Linked DNA regions of Homo sapiens. The protein of the gene in region 2 purifies or fractionates together with the protein of the main gene of each other region. This does not show direct contact. Each region holds a gene or a part of one and is shown on either strand. Other genes may lie near its edges.

Region 1 (3,500 bases), about 55 Mb from region 2:
GAGACCCTGTCTCTACGAAAAATTTTTTAAAAAATCAGCCAGGCGGCTGGGCGCAGTGGCTCACACTTGTAATCCCAGCACTTTGGGAGGCTGAGGCAGGCAGATCACTTGAGATCAGAGGTTTGAGACCAGCCTGGCCAACCTGGTGAAACCCTATCTCTACTAAAAATACAAAAATTAGCTGGGTGTGGTGGCGCGTGCCTGTAGTCCCAGCTACTTCAGAGGCTGAGGCAGGGGAATCGCCTGAACCCAGGAGGTGGAGGTTGCAGTGAGCTGAGATCGTGCCACTGCACTCCAGTTAGCCAGGCGTGGTGGTGTGTGCCTGTAGTCCTAGCTACTTGGGAGGTTGAAGTGGGAGGATCACTTGAGCTTGGGAGGTTGAGGCTGCAGTGAGCCGTGACTGCACCACTGCACTCCAGCCTGGGTAACAGAGCCAGGTCCTGTCTCACAAATAGACAGATAGAGAAATAGAAAGGAGGGAAACCAGGGATAAATAAATAAATAATAAGGGAAACCAGGGGATGAGTCCAGTAAATTTTGAGAAGAGATAAACAAGGACCTTCCTGACCTGTGGCTACTATAATAGGAGGTAGCAGTCTATAGAGTAAACTCTTATTTATTGAGCATCTACTAGGAATTGAAATTTTACCTCACAATACCCTTAAGAAGTAGGCATTATCTCTACTTTATGGGGGAAGTTCACAGAGGTTAAGTGACTTGGCCAAACTCACCCGATCAGTAAGACACACAGCCAGCTTTGAGCCCTAGTCTGCTTAACTTCTCTTCCCATGATGAGATGGTACTCCTGAGGGATTGGGGGTTGCTTCAGCATAATGCTCATATTATTTCTGAGCCAAAAAGCACATGTGATCACCTCTCAATCACAGCAGACATTTGGAAAGGTGTTCCTTCTGCTTATTTATGCAAAACATTCAAGTGCTGAACTTAGTTCTTTTCCTTGGCCCTCAAGAAAGCAAGCAGCCTGGCTTCTTTCCATTTTCTCTTGTCTTGCTCTAACAAACCACTAGGCGGTAATATGTAATACCAGCTCCATTACTGAGTCCCTACTATGTGCCAGGCTCTGAATTGGGTGCTTTTTATAAATCTGCCCTCAATTTTAGTTCTAAAAAATCCTGAAAGGTAGTTGATATTACCATCCTCATTTTTATAGAGGAAGAAATCAAGGCTTTGTGAAGTAATAGACTTGCCCGAGTCACACAACAGGGCCAGGATTTGAAGCCAAGACAGTCTGACTTGTTCACCACACCAACCTGCTGGCTGGCTTCATCATGAAGCAAGTGGGCTCAATATGGCAGCTGTATTACCTGATCTGAGTCTAGCTTCTTCGTTTCCCCCTTTAATGTCTCCATTCCATGGATTGCTAGGTATCTCTTCACTTTGTTGGCATGTTTTTTGCTCTGCAAAAACCCAGGAGAAAGATCAAAGATAGCCAAATGCTACTTCATACTTAAGGCACTCAAAAACACTTATGAGATTTTCATCTGATTCATCCTCACAAAAAGTTTTGAGGAGGAGGTGAGGGAAGTTTGAGTTCCTGCTCTGTGCAAGGCATTTTACAGCTACCAAATTTAATCTTCACAATCTATGAGAAAATTATGACCATTTCTATTTTATGGATGAGGAAACTACATCTAAAAATGATGAAGTTTCTTGCTCAAGATGAGTAGCAGAGTTTTGATTTAAAGTCAGATCTATTTAAAGCCAAAGCTCATACTTTATGCTATGCCAAGCTGCAAGGGAAGATACACATATAATGATCCTGATTTGGATGGGGGAGATGAGACTCAAGGAGATTAAGTCAATCTTCAAGTCACAAGCCAACATGCATGGAGGCAACATCTGGGTGGCTAAGCAGCAATTACACTTCACCATGCAAGCCAGAGAGAATTAGTGGTTTGGCACCAGGTCTGAAAAGAAACGCAGTTCTAAAAGTATGATGGCATACCTGGTAATGTGCCAGCTTCTGGGACTCAGAAATAAGCAAGGCGCAGCAAACCTTACACTGGGTGTTGGTGAAGAGACATTGGTTCTTCTGGATCATGTGCTCCACTATAGAGGGGAAAACAAGAAATCATTGAGTTGACAAACACTACCTCAACAGCACTGCCTTTGAACCCTGCCTCAAACACAGGCACTGAATGATGGGATGCCATACTAGGACACTGGCAGACCTCAGCCAGCCTTTCCTACTGCCACCGTGACTCATGCTGTGTTCTCACACCACCTACACTATTACTTATTTTATAATTTTATGTATGCCAACTTTCTTTACTTAGGAACTTCTTTTAAAAAGGAATCTTTAGATCATAAACTTAAGCAGATACCAATAAAAATAAATATGATAAAAATGAGGCTTGGAGCATTCCCCAGGAAGAAGAGAACAGCAACTGTGCTGAGAGGTTTTAAGATATGGTAGCACCCAACTGAAACTTCTTCCCAGATAGAATCAGGAGGACTGAAAGACTCGAAAAAGGAATACTTTTCTCATTGTTCTTGATCTGACTTTGAAACATTTAAAATCACATAACAGGGTGGGGCGTGGTGGCTCACGCCTGTAATCCTAGCACTTTGGGAGGCCGAGGTGGGCAGATCACCTGAGATCAGGAGTTCGAGACCAGCCTGGCCAACATGGTGAAACCCTGTCTCTACTAAAAATACAAAAATTAGCCAGGTGTGGTGGCAGGCACCTATAATCCCAGCTACTCGGGAGGCTGAGGCAGGAGAATTGTTTGAACCCAGGAGGCAGAGGTTGTAGTGAGCTGAGGTTGTGCCACTAACTCCAACTTGGGTGACAGAGCTAGACTCTGTCTCTAAATAAATAAATAAAATAAAATCACATAACGTATTATATAAGTGCCACACTATATGAAACATGGTATTAACCTGTGCTTAAATTATTGTGCCTGGAGAACAGTCTTACCTTTTTGAGAAGAGAAGAGGAGGTAAAATCTCTCCCAAGGCATAAGTTCATTTTTGTTTGTTTTTTTTTTTTTTGAGAGGGAGTCTCGCTCTGTCACCCAGGCTGGAGTGCAGTGGCATGATGTCGGCTCACTGCAAGCTCCGCCTCCCAAGTTCACACCATTCTCCTGCCTCAGCCTCCCGAGTAGTTGGGATTACAGGCACCCACCACCACGCCCAACTAATTTTTTTGTATTTTTAGTAGAGACGGGGTTTCATCGTGTTAGCCAGGATGGTCTCGATCTCCTGACCTCGTGATCCACCCACCTTGGCCTTCCAAAGTGCTGGGATTACAGGCGTGAGCCACCGCGCCCGGCCAAGGCATGAGTTCTATCATGGCGCTGGCAATGTGAGGCAGAGGCAGAGGCAGAGTCTAAAACTGGGAGAGGAGGGCAGGCCCACATTTTTAATCTCCTGGTCTCAGCCAAAAAGTGGTCAAGGCTAGGCACAGTGGCTCACACCTGTAATCCCAGCATTTTGGGAGGCTGAGGTGGGAGGATGGGTTGAGCCCAGGAGTTTGA
Region 2 (3,500 bases):
AGCACAGCAAGGTGACTACAGTTAATATATTTCAAAATAGCCAAAAGAGAGGATTTAAAATGTTCCCATCACAAAGAAATGATAAATGTTTAAAGTGGTAGATATGGTAATTACTCTGATTTGATGATTCTACAATGTATGCATGTGTCAATATCACTTTGTACTCTATAAGTGTCTAAAATTATTGTCAAAATAAAACAGAAAACACATCTTAGAGTTTTATAACAATATTTATATATTTATAACATTTTATCAGCTGATAGCATTAACTGTTATTCAGAAACACAAATTGCATATAATTATAGAACCTAAAGCTGTAGTATACATAATTCTACATAACTACTCATTTTATATACCTACATACCCTGTAGACCCAAACTTTTATGTTCTCCTTTGACTCACTGCTGCTACATATGGCTGCAGAGCTCCAATTTGACAACTACAATGTGAGTGACTCTCCGGGGATTATGCAACACGGTGGCCCTTTTCGAATCAGTCTCATTTTATATAAACTTGATATTCTTCCACAAATAAGTGCTCCACAAAGATTGCAACATAAAAACACAGTTATAGAAGAAGACATTAGAAAAAAAAAATTAAAAAAATCTTCATTCATGAGATTCGTACATAATTATAGAATTGTAAATCTTTTTCTAGAGCCTTTCAGAAAAAAATGAAATTCACTGAAATGAGATTACTAAATCAGCGTTAGTCTGGGATATCTTCCAGGGCAGAGAAACAGCTTTGCTAAATAAAATTAATGATAAAATGACTCTTAACAAAATAGCATTTACCCCGGAGTCCACACTAGACATGCAAGTATTACCACTGCTCTTCTAAAACTTGTTATAACTAAGATGGGAAGATATAGCTAACTCTGGAAAGAAATACCCAGTTCAGCAAAGATTTTAGCAAGTTGTCAAAACAGGGATTTGGAAACAGCAGTAGATGTGTTTTTCAACAATTGTTTGAATACATTTTAATCAAAATCTGGTTAGGATTCCCAGAATTTCTTATGTCTGTTTTATATCTGTTCATATATTGAGAATTACCTTTGAAGTGGATTTTTAGAAACTATAAGAGGTAAACATGCTGAAAGAAGCAGTAAAAGGTAAAAAGCTGCTCCTGGAATATCTTCTTTTTTCCTATAACCTGAAGGGCAGTTTCTTGGGGAATACACTTCTCAGGATTAGTCATTTTTGTTGTCATTGTTTTTACATACCAACCTTCTGTAATTAATCCTGAGGATTAAAATATACTGCTTCTTCATTGGATACCAAATTGTTTCTACCAAGACAGAATCTCAAATTGTGTTACCAATCTGGAAGCACACTTACTGCTATAATCTGTTGCTTTAATTTGGCAACAGAAGTCTGTCATGGTAGTATTTTTATTTTAAATTTTTAAACATCACGGGCCTACTACACAGTTTTTTCTTTCTTCCTGATTTTTTAGTTCTGCCCCACCAAGGATTCTACTTGCATGTAATTTAGAGCAGGCATCACGCTTTTTCTGTAAAGGACCTGAAATGAATGCCTTTGTAAGACACACAGCTTCTGTCACAACTACTTCGCTTTACCATTGTGTCGTGAGTGCAGACATAGGCAATATATAAATGAATGACTTTGGCTTTGTTCCATAAAACTTTATTAAATAAAAGAAAGTTCCAGCGGCAGGCTGGAACAGCCCCCATGGGCCAGTTTGCCAATTCCTGGTTTTGAAAATCAAATACTTCTACAAGAATTTTTTTATAAAAGTGGCAGTACTCTATTATTCCTTTCCTGCTTCAATTGCAGTTAGTTCGCATAGAGTTTACCCCTACAGTAAGATGTTTATGTACTGTATTAGCTTTTTTATTTTAAGCACTAGCTATTAACTTTATGTTGTGGTAGGTAAAGATTTAGATCTCTTTTCTCCTTCAGGCTCTAAGTCATATATCCCCTCCATCCTCCTCATATACTTATCTCCTGATATCCCCCCTTCATCCTCCTTATATACTTGAATCAGATTAGGTGAACATTTATTGATTATGTTATTGTGACTGTGAGTCATGTACTGAGTTATTACTACTTTTCTGCATAATATTTCTGTTTTCTACAGTTTGTGATAGGTTTATTTTGTTAGTTTTCTGTCTTATCTGTAGTGTAACACCAAACTCTCCATCTGCTATTGATATGTCCTCTCCAGATATTCAGCACACCAAGTATCCCAAACCTAAGTCTCCTGTCACCATCATCCTGGGAAGTTCCTTCTGCCTAAGTCTTCTGTTTCTTGTCTCCTATGCCATTCTTATTATTTGTATCCTTCCTCATTTTAGGGGAGCCAGTAGCTTCTTGGACAGAAATGTACAAGGATGTAAATTTTTTTGAATAAACTGCATGTGTGGAAGTATTTTTCTTCTTCCCTAGGTTGGAAATTCTTTTCCTTCATAATTTTAGAAGCATTAGCTGCTCTATAGTTTGACTTCCAGAATTAAAGTCTGAAACCATTGTGATCTGTGCGTCTTTTCTTTTTAGTTTATTATTTGGTGACTTGTTTTATTATCTGAAATCTTGTAGGTCCCAATATACTAATGTGACTATTTTCATATATTGTTTTCAGTCTTCTTAGCCTGAAAAATCATGTTTTTCATTGGAGTTTCTATATTCTAGCTTTTAATACTCAAGCAAGCATGTTTGACCTATGCCTTCAGCAGCTCAGCTTGTCACTAAGTGACTCAGGATACTAGCAATAACCTTCCTTCCTAAATTATCTTTTTTCTATCTTTCCTCTATTGTATCAGGAAACTCAGCAGCAGGTTGAAGAAACAGGTTCACTTTGCGCTGTACTTAAATGAATGGTCCATGAGTAGACGACATTTCTTGGAAAAGGTTGAACAGAAGCTGTGTCTAATAGTCAGAATAGATGCGTATCAGTTTCCTAAGGCTGCCATAACAAAGTATCACAAATTGAGTGGTTTAAAACTATGTAAATTGGCCAGGCGCGGTGGCTCACACCTGTAATCCCAGCACTTTGGGAGGCCGAGGCAGGTGGATCACAAGGTCAGGAGTTCGACACCAGCCTGGCCAACGTGGTGAAACCCCATCTCTACTAAAAATACAAAAATCAGCTGAGCGTGGTGGCGGGTGCCTGTAGTCCCAGCTACTCGGGAGGCTGAGACAGGAGAATCGCTTGAACCCGGGAGGCGGAGGTTGCAGTAAGCCAAGATCACGCTACTGCAACTCCAGCCTGGGTGACAGAGTGAGACTCCCAACAACAACAACAAAAAAGTAAATTTATTTTCTCACAGTTGAGGAGGGTGAAAGCTTGAAATTAAGGTGTCAGTGAGGCCACACTTTCTCTGGAAGCTCCAGAGGGGAAACTTTCCTGTGTCTTTGAGCTACTGGTGGCTGATGCCAGGATAACTCCAATCTTTGCCCTTAGTGTTCACGTAGTCTTTACTGTGTCTCTCTGTGCCCCTATATCAAAATATTCTTCTCCTTATAAGGAAACCAGTCTTA

Evidence for each region. Proteins that work in one complex are often made in the same cells at the same time.
Region 1: the proteins of SRFBP1 (region 2) and ZNF346 purify together in Homo sapiens (co-immunoprecipitation; one large-scale study listed by IntAct). This does not show direct contact.

What each region holds. Positions count from the first base shown.
Region 1 is NC_000005.10:177,039,696-177,043,195, reverse strand, and holds part of ZNF346 (zinc finger protein 346), read right to left. Parts: intron 2,071-3,500; coding exon 1,967-2,070; intron 1,419-1,966; coding exon 1,326-1,418; intron 1-1,325.
Region 2 is NC_000005.10:122,013,975-122,017,474, forward strand, and holds part of SRFBP1 (serum response factor-binding protein 1), read left to right. Parts: intron 1-3,500. UniProt on the Homo sapiens protein: May be involved in regulating transcriptional activation of cardiac genes during the aging process. May play a role in biosynthesis and/or processing of SLC2A4 in adipose cells.